Linked DNA regions of Homo sapiens: regions 1 and 3 are each linked to region 2. Evidence: fine-mapped expression QTL. A gene starts in region 2. Each other region holds a variant in brackets. All regions are shown on one strand. Distances are from middle to middle. Region 1 overlaps SLC13A3 (solute carrier family 13 member 3). Region 2 holds the start of SLC13A3 (solute carrier family 13 member 3). Region 3 overlaps SLC13A3 (solute carrier family 13 member 3).

Evidence for each region. PIP is the estimated chance that this variant, and not a neighbour inherited with it, causes the effect.
Region 1: its variant is the best candidate, but not a certain one, in a credible set for the expression of SLC13A3 in prefrontal cortex (CommonMind, PIP 0.56).
Region 3: its variant is the best candidate, but not a certain one, in a credible set for the expression of SLC13A3 in nasal epithelium (TOPMed, PIP 0.63).

What each region holds. Positions count from the first base shown.
Region 1 is chr20:46,560,398-46,564,638 of GRCh38, forward strand. SLC13A3 (solute carrier family 13 member 3) reads right to left here. Exons shown (of 13, transcript NM_022829.6): 12 at 3,017-3,154. Among named protein-coding and RNA genes, the nearest start is that of OCSTAMP, 12 kb to the left of the region's middle. The variant C/T (reference allele first, on the strand shown) is at 2,328.
Region 2 is chr20:46,649,671-46,653,911 of GRCh38, forward strand. SLC13A3 (solute carrier family 13 member 3) reads right to left here and starts at 1,789. Exons shown (of 13, transcript NM_022829.6): 1 at 1,641-1,789. The coding sequence starts at 1,751.
Region 3 is chr20:46,606,586-46,610,826 of GRCh38, forward strand. SLC13A3 (solute carrier family 13 member 3) reads right to left here. Exons shown (of 13, transcript NM_022829.6): 3 at 3,861-4,024. Among named protein-coding and RNA genes, the nearest start is that of SLC13A3, 43 kb to the right of the region's middle. The variant T/G (reference allele first, on the strand shown) is at 1,745.

The DNA of each region.
Region 1 (4,241 bases), 89 kb before region 2:
CAAGTGTCCCCATTCATTGATGGCCTCTAGGTTCCAGGCACTGTGTGCTACGCAGTTGTCACAGGGTTATGCTGTTTAACCCAGAAAGCAACCTTACAAAGGTCATTCTTATTAATCCCCATTTTATAGAAGAGAAAAATGAGACCTAGAGAAGTTGACTTGTCCAAGGTCACCTAACTTGAAAATAATCTTGTCTGATCACTAAACACCCCCATCCCACACACATATACACACACGCATGCACACACACACGCATGCATGTAGGAACACACATATGTACACATAGGTACACACACACACTTCAGGTCCAGTCCAGTCAGGTAGTCCTAGTCAAGACTACCCTTGTCCATTGGGAAGCATTTTTCTTCTGTCGGTGGAGAATGTGCCCATCTGCTCCCTACCCTGGCTGGCCTCTTGGACCATTCAGTCCACCTTGGGCTGAAAATCCTTGTTTTCCCACCTGGGTCTTCTGGCTGCCCCGCCTTCACATAGCCCAGGCTGAATCACATGGTGAGACAGTTACTTCCTTTCTAATTCTCTTTCTGTCTATTCCTCCCAGAGAAAGTCTCTCTTAGGGGTGTGATAGGAAAATAAATCTTGGGGCCCCCAAATTACTAAGCTAAAGAGAAAAGTCAAACTGGGAACTACTTAGGGCCAACCTGTCTCCCATTCTATTCAGTCATCCCTCTGCTCACTGAGTTGAATGCATATCTGATTGCCTTCTTTGGAAAGGCTCATCAGAGACTCAAAATAATGCAACCATTTGTCTCTTATATACCTATGACCTGGTAGCCCCCTGCCCTCTTTGAGTTGTCCCGCCTTTCCGGACCAAACCAATGTTCATCTTACATATGTTGATTGATGTCTCATGCCTCCCTAAAATGTATAAAATCAAGCTGTGCTCCACCCACCTTGGGTGCATGTCGTCAGGACCTCCTGAAGCTGTGTCACAGGCGTATGTCCTTAACTTAGGCAAAATAAACTTCCTAAATTTACTGAGACCTGTCTCAGATTTTTGGGGTTCACAGGGGCCACCATGGCTTCAGCACTTCTCTGCTCCTGTCAGTTGCCCTTTTAACAAGGAGAGGCCCAGAACCTTCTCCAGGCAGCTGCTATCAGGGAGAGCTTAATTCTTTTGTTTTTGCCGCTTTGCATTTATTTTTAGGTTTACTGGCCATGGCATATATTAATAATACCGGTTTTCCATTGATGGATGCACTGGAAACATTTCTTCTGGAATATTCTTATTCAAGTTTTTTTTTGTTTTTTTTTTTTAATGTCAAGCTGATTTAGTAAAGGTGTTAAATAAATATTACCACGGACGGGTGGGGGACATACTGCGTGTGCTGTCCTGCCTCTCTTCTAAGGGCACAGAGGTGGAAGCCCTGGCACCTTCGGAGGATTAGAGGGAGTCGGGCCGACATGTTGGGGAAACTGGGGGAGGATTGGGTCTCCCTTTGCCAGGGCTCAAAATTCCTGCTGGTCCCATGTTAGCTACTTCATTAACACCTAACTCATTACTCTCAGGAGCGAACCTGCAGGTGGGCCATCCCTGCCCGGGACTGGCTGACCGGGGGTGCCCCTTGTACCCCTCCACATCTCTTGCAAGTCTCTACCTCTTGGGGACTCTCCATTTCTCTGGCTGTCTTTATTCTCCAAATCTATGCTGTTTGCATTGCTGCCCTCTCAGTCTTTTTCTCTAAGTAGCCTCCCTGCTTCCACACTTGTCCCTCCCACCCTAACGATTCACTCCAGCCAGCAGCCAAAATGATCTTCTACAGACAGAAGTGAAATCACATCATTGCCCTGCTTACCGAGGGTCCCCACTGTGGTTTGAATAAGATACCAAGTCTGTCCTGTCCCCGCTGTTCCCTGACCTCGTGTCTCCAACCTCATCCTTCTCCAACTCCACTGCAGCCACCCCAGCCTCCTGGCCCTGAATTTCTGGAGCACTCGCTGCTATTCCTCTCTTCCAGGCCTTTGTACCTGCTGTGCCCTCCATTGGGACTGCTCTTCCCCTTTTTCTCTGTGAGGCTGGCGGCTTCCCATGATCATCAGCTCCCATGTCACCTTCCTGGAGAGGGCTTCCCTGCCACCCCTCTCCCCCGTCCTCTTACACTTCCTCATGTTTTATTTCCTTCTGAGCACCTAGCAATATTGAAATTTTACATAATTTAGGAAAATCTGCTGAACTTGTTCACGTCTGTCTCCACCAATAGAAAGCAGCCTCCTAGGAGGCGGATCGGTGTCTCTCCCACTCTGCAGTGCCCCCAGTGGCTGGAACATAGAATGCACTCAGTAAATAGTGCTGTAATGAACGAACAAAT[C/T]AATGAGTCTCTGTCTCGTCTCTTCTCTGTTTGCTCTGTGTCTCCCTTTCTGCCTCGCTCTCACTCTCGCTCTCTCTCCCCATGTGTCCTGCAGGGGTCTTGTGCCTGGAGGGCCTGCATCGCGATTGGTTAAGCAGGTCGCCCGTCTTGGCTTTGACAGCTTTGGAAGGGTTATTTGCAAAGCCAGTGGAGAGGGAAAAGGCCGCAGGAGTCAGGAGCGGGAAGGGAGGAGCTGGTTCAGCAGGGACCTTCCGGGGGAGGGAACATATTGCCAATGGCTGGGCCCTGCTGAAAGCTGGTGGGGTCCTCCCACTGCTACAGTCCTCCGCTTCTGTCTCCTTCCCAGCTGGCTGAGCACTGAGGCCCACCCCTGAGTCCTAGGGTGTGTCTGCTGCTTCTCTCCCCCGAAGATTCTGGGCACGAAGTGGGGTCCAGAGGGAAGGGGAAGTTCCTTGCCTCTGGAGCAAATTTTGGAAAGTAGTCACTAAGGCAGTGTTTCCTGAGATTGTCTAAGTGCAGGAATCATCCCAGAGTCTCTGCTAAATGTATGTTCCTGGTCCCACTCAGAAAGATCTATTCAGAGACTGGGGAGTGGGGTCAGCGTGCAGGAGTCCTGCATAGAGGCCTTGCCCGCCCCCTTGCGGCCCACCCACATCCCGGGGCCTCTGCTGGGAAATGCCCAGACTCACCATGTCTTTGACCAGCAAGTGTCCAGAGGCGAAGGCGATGGAGTTGGGGGGCGTTGAGACCGGGAGCATGAAGGCAAAGGAGCAGCCGACTGTGCCCGGAATCATCAGATACAGGGGGTGCACTCTCAGGCGGATGGCCTGGGCCAGGAAAAGGTGGGAGAGACCCGGAGAGAGACCAACGCAGAGCGACCACAGCAAGAGGGAGAGAGAGAGAGAGAGGCAGTTGGAAAGAGGGACACAAAGACGTAGAGACAGAGAGACAAAGACATCCATAGAGATTGGCAGAGTGGCAGAGAACAACAGGGACAAGTGAGAAGAGAGAGTTAGAGAGACAGAGAGAGAAAGGCAGTCAGAAAGACACATGCACAGGCAGAAACAGAGACAAGCAGGTAAGAAGAGAACCAGATCGAGAGAGAGGTGGAGAGAACATTCCCAGGGTTAGTGACATTCAAGGGCCACACTGTGGTTTGATCAGGGATGGGCTGGGGTGGTGTACCTAGAACACTCCTTCTCCAATGTGAGAGTGCAGAAAAGCACTTGGAGGGCTGGTTAAAGCCCACATGGCTGGCCCCACCTCACCCAGAATTGCTGATTCAGCAAGTCTGGGGTGGGATCCAAGAATCTGCATTCCTGACGTGTTCCCCCGGTGCTGCTGGTCTAAGGACTGTACACTGAGAACCAGGGCTTTAAAATACTTCCTCTGCCTGCTCCTTCCCTCAGCCAAACAATCTCAACCCAGAGTTGGCCTCTGGATACCTCTTGTTGGGGGCATCCCTGGATTTCAGTGAGAAAGAGAGCTCATGAGAGCATCTGTTGGCAGCTCTTCCAAATTTCTAAGACTGTGTGTATCAAACCCCCCTATGAGCTGGCCTCAGCTAGTGGGCCACCAGTTTGTCACCTCTCCTGCCTACAATTCATACTGATCACTTTTATGGCGTTTTACTTAAATAGGATATTTTTGGGCCTTCTAGGGAATTTTTGCAACCCAAAGCATATTTATTTTCTCAAAAAGCTCTAAAATCACCCCCTTGCATGTAAAATGTTTTTTGATTTTGATGATAAGCAAAGTTTACAAGAATGTGTCATTTACAAGTGTCTTTTCCAGCAAAAGCTGCCCCTTACAGACCTGGCTGGGTTCTATGCTCCGTCTCCGTCCCCATACCCCCTATAATACTCTCATTTCTCTCAGTGACCAGGTCCCTCTGAGGACTCCCACCCCATACTG
Region 2 (4,241 bases):
GGAAGCAAAACCCAAAGAGGAAAGGAGATTGGTCCAAGATCTTAAGATCCACAGGTCAGAAAGTGGCCTGGGGTGGGCTGAGTTTTGCAAAGGTGACCTCATCCTTCTTCCATCATTTATTGTGTTTTTCTCTTCCACGTCGAGAAAGTCTAATAGCTTAGATAATTCCACACTAATGAACTTGCTGTGTGTTAGCCCTGGGTCTCCTTGGAACCACTGGTGTCACCTTCTTACTCCATGTGCCCAAGGAGGGCTCCTTCTTCCAGGAGAAGCTCCCTGGTCTCAGCTGATCGGTGCTGGGTAATGCACCACTAAATTATACCTCCTCTTTACTTTTATTTTTGTGAACATTTAATACCTCACTGAGAGATGGTGAAGCAACTTCCTGGAGGTAGAAGCCTTATCTTACAAGCCCAGTGCCCTCTCATGATGCCCTGGCTGGGCTGGGCAGGGCACAGGTGAAGAACCCAAAAGGGACCTGTGGTACCATCTCCTTCCAGCCCCCACTAGTGTTGATTTCAGTTATGACTCCTGAACTCCACCTGCGGCCTTTGATCTTACAGGGGTTACTTCCTTGGGGAGACTGAAAACAGCTAGGGTTCTGGATTCTGACAAGCCGGGGACTGAATACCGACATAGTCACTTGCTGTGTGACTCTGAGCAAGTCACTTTCTCTCCCCGAGCCTTGGTTTTCTCCTCTGGAAAATGGGTCAAATAATCTTTCCCCTCTGAGACGCGTTGAAATGATTAAATAAAGTGATACACAAAAGGCAAATCCTCACCCGTAGTAAGCACTCATGAATCTTACCGTCCTCATCACGTAAGGACCTGGTGCAGAAAAAGACCAGTCACTGCTTATTGGGCATTTATTCTGTACAAGGTTTAGTTATAAGAGATTTACATATATTGCCTCATTGATATTCACCGCTGCCCTATGGGTGGGCACTATCATTTCTCCCATTTTTACACATGAGTAAACTGAAGTTCAGAGAGGTTAAGTGACTTGCACCATGTCACACAGCTTGGCACCCAGTAAGTGTTCATTGTGACTGTCGCGTGAAATGTGCAATACAGCACCAAGCACAGAATTAGAGCTCAGGAAAGAAAGAATTCTGCTAGGCACAGTGGTTCACGTCTGTAATCCCAGTATATGGGAGACCAAGGTGGGAGAATTGCTTGAGTCCAGGAGTTCCAGACCAGCCTGGACAACATAGTGAGACCCTATCTCTATTAAAAAAAAATTAGCTGGGCATGCACCTGTAGTTCTAGCCACTAGGGAGGCTGCGGAAGGAGGATCGCTTAAGTCCAGGAGTTGGAGGCTGCAGTGAGCTATGATCACATCACTGCACTCCAGCCTGGGTGACCGGCGAGAACCTGTCACTGAAACGAAACGAAATTATTCCCATGGAAGTGAGATCCAGAAGGCAGGGTGGGACTCAAGCTCTAAGGAGCAGCTGGGAAGAGGGAAGAGGCGTTAGGAGCGTTCACAGCGGTCCGCGGCAGGTGCAAGGGAGGGAAGGCGAGGGGGTCTGGTGGAGCCTGTCTACACTGGGACCTCAGCGGTCTCCCAACTTGGAGGCTTGGGAGAAGAGGATCCCGCCTGTGGTTGACCGGGGGCGCACAGGCGGAGGAGGCGTTACCTTGGGCGGGAGGGCGAAGACCACCGGCAGCAGCGCGAGCGGCGTGAACAGCAGCACCAGCAGCCGCCGCGCGCTCCACACCTTCTTGGCCGCTGCTGCCAGCGCCGCCATCAGCGCGATCGCCTGGCGGTACGGGCCGGCCCGGGACTGCCCCGCCTGGCCCCGGCGCCGGCTTAAAGCCTGGGGGAGGGTCGGGGAGGGGACTGCGCTGGGGAACCCGCCCTCTCCCTGCTCCTCCTGGAGGAAAAGGGTGGTGCCTGCGCCCCTGGGACCGGGTGAAAGAGGCCCGGGAACGTTGGAGAAAGTTAGGCACTAGAATTAGCAAACGGGACCCCAGCCGCAGGGCAGTGTGGCCTTGCCTCTTGGCTTCCCAGCAATGTGGCCTGGGGCAGCTGGCTTATCCTCTCCTCGCCTCTGTTTACTCGCCTGTGAGATGGCTGAGGATGACAAGGCGAGGATTAAGGCGCGTACTCCTATTACCCGGGTTCAAATCCTGGCACGGCCACTTACTCACTGCGTGGCCTTCAACAACAGCCTCTGAGCCTGAAAGTGGAGTGGTGATAATAATAGTCTACACCATGGAATACTATGCAGTCACAAAAAAGAAGGACATCATGTTTTTTGCGGGAACATGGATGGAGCTGGAGGCCATTATCCTTAGCAAACTAACACAGGAACAGAAAACCAAATGCCGCATGTTTTCACTTATAAGCGGGAGCTAAATGATGAGAACACATGGACACATAGAGGGGAACAACTGACACTGAAGCCTATGGGAGGCTGGAGGGTGGGAGGAGACAGAGGATCAGGAAAAATAACTAATGGGCACTAGGCTTAATACCTGGATGACGAAATAATCTGTGCAACAAATCCCCATGACACAAGTTTACCTATACAACAAATCTGCACATGTACCCCTGAACTTAAAAGTTAAATTTTTAAAAATAGTCTACACCAGACAAGAAGGTTGTTAGGAAGTTTAAATGAGATAACACATGTAATGTGATTAGCGCAGTGTCTGGCAGAGCAGGTGCTCAATGAGAGTTATTGCTGCTGATGAGTTATTCTTATTTTTGGGTTTTTTTTTCTTTTTTTTGAGATGTAGTCTCACTCTGTAACCCAGGCTGGGCTGGGGAGCAGTGGAGCGATCTCGGATCACTGCAACCTCTGCCTCCCGGGTTCAAGCAATTCTTCTGAGTAGCTGGGATTACAGGCGTGTGCCACCATATCTGGCTAATTTTTTTTTTTTTTTTTTTTGTATTTTTAGTAGAGATGGGGTTTCACCATTTTGGCCAGGCTGGTCTCGAACTCCTGGCCTCATGATCCGCCCATCTCGGGCCTCCCAAAGTTCTGGGATTACAGGTGTGCGTCACCACGCCCGGCCGTTATTCTTATTTTTTTTTAAGGGGGGTGAGTCACTTCTATTCACTTCTGATTATTCTCAGGTAACCATACAGGAGTGCAACTGTTGGGTTGCCCAGTATTTGCAATGCTTAGCTTTTTAAGACACTGTCAACCTGTCTTCCAAAGTGATTGTACTATTTTGCACTTCCATCAACAATGTATGAATCATCCAGTTTCTCCACATCTTTGCCAACATTTGGTGTTGTCACTGTTTATTTTATTTTAACCATTCTGACAGGGACATAGTAATAGCTCATTGTGGTTTTAATTTCTATTTCCCTAATGGCTAGTGATGTTTAACATCTTTTCACATGCTAATTTGCCATCTCTATATCCTCTTTGGTGAACTATCTTTTCCTGTCATTTGCCTGTTTTCTACTTGTATTATTTGGTTTTTTACAGTTGAGTTTTGAAAGTTCTTTGCAAATTCTAGATGTCAGTTCTTTGCCAGTTACGCTGTTTGCAAATATTTCTCCCCGTCTGTAGCTTGTCTTTTCAGCCTCTTAACTATATATCACCAAGCAAACATTTCTAATTTTGATGTAGTTAAATTTATCAAATTTTTCCTTTGGATGATCGGGTTAAGCTCTCTGCATAGCCTTAGACCCCAAAGAGTTTCTCGTATGTTTAGTTTGCTTTGTTCTCACAGAAGTGTCCAAGGAAGAGAATACAGTCATGGGTTCTTAGTTTCTGTTTCTGGTTGGGCCAGTAAAGCCCCTTCCTCATCCCTCTTTTCCACTCATCACTAGAGACAGAAACTAAAAACCATGGCTTCAGGCTGCTAAAAGCTTAAAACAAACAAACAAACAAAAAAAGAACAACAACAAAATAAGGCAGGTTGGACAAGCTTGTCAGAAGTTTTACAGTTTTGAAACACTGTATTCATTACAAAATAACTTCATTCTCTCCTCCCACAGCCTCTGGAAACCATCATTCTGCTTTCTGTCTCTATAAATTTGATTAATCTGGATAGCTCATACAAGCGGTATCATGGAATATTTATCCTTTTGTGATTAGCTTTGTGTCCTTAAGGCTCACCCATGTTGTAGCATGTGTCATAATTCCTTTTTAAGGCTGAATAATATTCCATTGTATGGATATACTATATCGTGTTTATCCATTCATTTGTTGATAGACATTGGGTTGTTTCTACCGTTTGGCTATTGTGAGTAATGCAGCTATAAACATAGGTGTACA
Region 3 (4,241 bases), 43 kb before region 2:
CCCAGTGCTTTGGGAGGCCGAGGCTAGAGGATCACTTGAGCCTGGGAGTTTGAGGCTGCAGCGAGCTGAATGCACCACTGCACTCCAGCCTAGGAGACAGAGGAAGACCCTGTCTCTAAAAAACAAAAACAAAATCCAGGTGGGCCCCTTACTGGCCAAGGAACATTGGGCCTATCATGGCTGTGAGCTTCAGTTTCCTCATCTGTAAAACAGGCATGCTAATAGTGCCTCCCCACAGGGCTGTGGTGGAGGACCTAATGAGAGCGTGCATGCAGGGGGACATTGGCGAAGCCATCACTCACATGGCCCCTGGGTCCCCCAGGAAGTGCAGGGCACAGAACTGAGCAAAGGAACTGGAGAAAGGCAACAGCGCTGCCCTCCAAGTCTGAGGACCTCTGGAGTCTTATCCAGATAGCCCCACCCTGCCCTAGGTTCTGCCTCCTCTGTACCAGGCACCATGGCAAGGTGCTTATAAGCACAGATTCTGGATTCTGACAGAGCTCAGCAAATCATCGTGTTACTTTGGGCAAATCATTTTGCTTCTCTGAGCCTCAGTTTCCTCATCTATAAAATGGGCATCATTACCTCCTAGTACAATTATGAAGATCAGATGAGCTAATGAGTATAAAAAAATTAGCATGGTATCTGCATGTGGTGGTTACTCAGAAAATGGGAGCTCAGCTCACATGATGATTATGGTTGCTGCTGGTGCTACAGATGTCCTTCATGAACCTATAGCTCCTAGGAACTTCCTTGTGCCTCTCCTAGCCCACTGGCAGAATCTCTACTCCCTCCACCCCTGTCCTCGCCTCCTGCCACCTGGTCAAAGCTCAGAACTGGATGAAAGGGAATAGCTCTCTTTGTACTGGAATTAGCCTTGTTTTAGGTCTTAGAAGCTGATCATTAACCAATTCCTGCTCCTCCCTGATCCCATGGCCTGTAAAGGTAGGTATCTATCCCAACCCCCAGGATCCCCTCCCTCTTGACATCCTGCAGCATAGGAAAAGGCTCTGGACTTCAATGCATGGCCACCACTGTGTGTGGCCTTGGGCAAGTCCCTTCCCCTTCCTGAGTCTCAGATTTTTCATTCTCACAATGAGGGACTTGGCTTTCAATCATTTGCTTGACCACTTTGGAAAAAGTCTCATGTGGGAGGCAGAATAATGGAGCCTGAGAATGTAGGCTCTGAAGTCAGCCAGCCCGGATTCAAAATACCAGAGCCACAGTTTGGAAACTGCGTAACGGGGGGTGGGAGGACTCTTTTTAATTCCTTCCTCAATTTCCATTTCTGTAAATGAGGTCGATGCTTGCTCCGTCTCATTCAGATATGAGGTCCACCTAAGAGTCCGCGCATAAACTAAGTGCACAGTAAACATTGGTTATTATTGCTTAGAGGCCCAGTGTACAAAATGAATAAAGTGAGTCTAACTAGGGTTGAAATGGGGAAAAGGGCAGAGTCCCAGGTGCTTGCTGCCACCCCAGGGTGACCATCAGGCAGTTCTCTTAAGGGAAACAGTTTGAAAATCAAGAAAGCCAATATTGTACAGCAGGGGTCAGTGACCTACAATATGCAGCCCCAATCCAGCCCACCGCCTGTTTTTGTGTGGCCTGCCAACTAGGAATGGCTTCTACATTTTCAAATGGTTGAAAAACATCTATGGAAGAATATTTCCTGATACAAAAATTATATGAAATTTTAATTTCAGCACCCATAAATACAATTTTTTTGTCACATTGCCACGCC[T/G]GCTTGTTTGTTTTATCTGTGGCTGCTTTCTCACTGCAAGGGCAGCGTTGAGTAGTTGCAACAGAGTGGCCCACAAAGCCTGCAGTATTTACTATTTGGTCATTTATAGACAAAGTTTGTTAATCCATGCTATAAAGCTTCTCTTCACTTCCTCGTGGAAGACTCTGCCGTTGCATAGAGCTGACTCTGCCACTTTGCCAATGCTATGATCCTCAACACATCATCTCACCTCTCCAAACTTCATCTGTAAAGTACATATAATCATTTCTAGTGTTCAGGGTTGCTGTGAAAATAAAATAAGCAGGACCCCTTAGTGTATGACGGGGAAATACTCATGTGACTGTCAGTGAGATTAACTTAGATGGTACACGGATCAACATTTAAGTTTTAACAGATACGTATTTAATTTAATTCATATTTTAAAAACTAGAACTAGCACACAAAACCTATGGTTTCATGGATAATGCTTGTTGTGTTCACTGAGGTAAATGATCCAAAGCCACAGGGGCAGATCTGCCATCTATCTCTCAAGATGTGGCTCCTGTCTTTGGGTCCCAGGTGCCATCATATTCACATTCCACCCGGCAGGAAGGACAGAACCCGGAAGTTGCACACATCATTTCCACTCATATTCCATTGACCAGACTCAGTTATCTGACCAAGTCTTATCACAAGGGGAGCTTGAAGTTTCAGCCTTTCCTCAGAGAGGAAAGTATTGGGTTCTATTCCTAAAAGAACAAAGGAAGAATCAATGCCGGGGTTAAACTAGCCATTTCTGCCCACATATGTATCAATTCAAATCTTCCTTTTAAAATACAGTTATGTAAATTAAAAGTAAGACATTTTAAAGTGACATGATGTGGCAGCCACTTTGCAACCATAAGACCAGGGGAACCAGAGTTGCCAATGAAAAATCATGACGTCATTGTGCCTCTGAATTGATCCTGGACTTCTTTAACTTCACTGTGTAATTTGGGAAAATCATTTCCCTCTTGGAGACTGTATGTAGTCACCTAAAAATACAATGGCTGTGTATGTTTTGTTTTATTAAGAACATAATTTCAGAGGATTGAGGGAATCAAATCCCTCCGTTCATAATACGTTATCACTATTTACTTCACAAAGCCTCTCTTTCCTATAATTGATTGGGTCTTTTTAGTCCTTTCTCTCCCCATTTCCCACTCTCACCCTTTCCATAGCAACCATTCTGATATGTTTAATGTGTAGCTTTTCATCATACATTGCTTACAAAATCTTTTGTCGTTCATGTGTATTTTCAGCTTACATATTGAGGTTGTATTCTAGATCTCATTCTGGTTTTTACCTCCAATCATAACTGCTCTATGAGATCCATTTATAGAAGTACATGGTTCACTAATTCTTCTCTCTTTTAAAAGGAGCATAATGCTCAATGGCATGTATCCACCATATTTGCCTTTGCCTGTACTAGCAATAAAGTGCATGTAGCCACCAACTTCCCACACCACAGAGAGCGCTACAGTGAATATCACTATGTGCGTTCCCTCCTGGACCTATAGGAGAATTCCTTTGGTGTCTGGGAGCAAAACTGCTGGGTTACAGAGTATAAACACATTTAATGTGATTAAATCCTTGCACAAGATCCTTAAGAAACTCTAACCCAGTCCACACTCTTTCTAGCAGTACACGAAAGTTCCTGTGGCCCCTATTCCTGTCAACATGGGGATTCATCAGCTTCCTTATTTCTGCCTGTCTCATTGATTAAAATGTTATTGTTTCAATTTGCATTTCTCTGAGTACTGGTGATGCTGAGCATCTCTTTGAATGCTGTAAAACAAGGTTTAATTATAGTACTTACTTCATAGAGCTGTTTTGAGAGTTAAGGAAGATAATGTATGTAAAGAGTTCAACTCACTGCTCAGTATACAGTATGTGCTTAATAAATGCAAATTTTAAACAACCAAGGTACCATGATTTCTTATCTAATTATCAGTCATTGTCATAACTAAAACACCTGACGCATAGTAGGTGCTCAATAAGTGTGCATGCCCTTGGCCTTCCCTAACATCCTTTGGACATCCCATTCCCACTTCCAAATCCTGGTGGATTTGGCCCCAATCCCTTAGCACAGCCTCACCTGTGTTCTCTTCACTCTCCTGGCTGGGGTCCTTTCGAACCTCCTTCTGGCCAAAGAGACTTTTCAGGATGGCATTGGCAATGGGAAGCATCATGGCAGTGGAGGCGGTGTTGCTCAGCCACATGGACAAGAACGAGGTGGTCACCATCATCCCCAGGATGAGCCTGCAGAGCAGATGGCATTAGAGGCAAATCCAGAACCCAGGGCCCAGGAGATCCTCTGGTCCCAGTTTGCCATCCCTGAGGAATACAATCCATCCATTTTACAGATGGAAACTTGAGACTCAAAGCAGAAACCAAATCCACTCACCAGGTTTATTTTAGATCTAAGAAAACTGTGGTTCAGTGTGTTTAAGTGAACTGTCCATAGGTACCCAGGTTA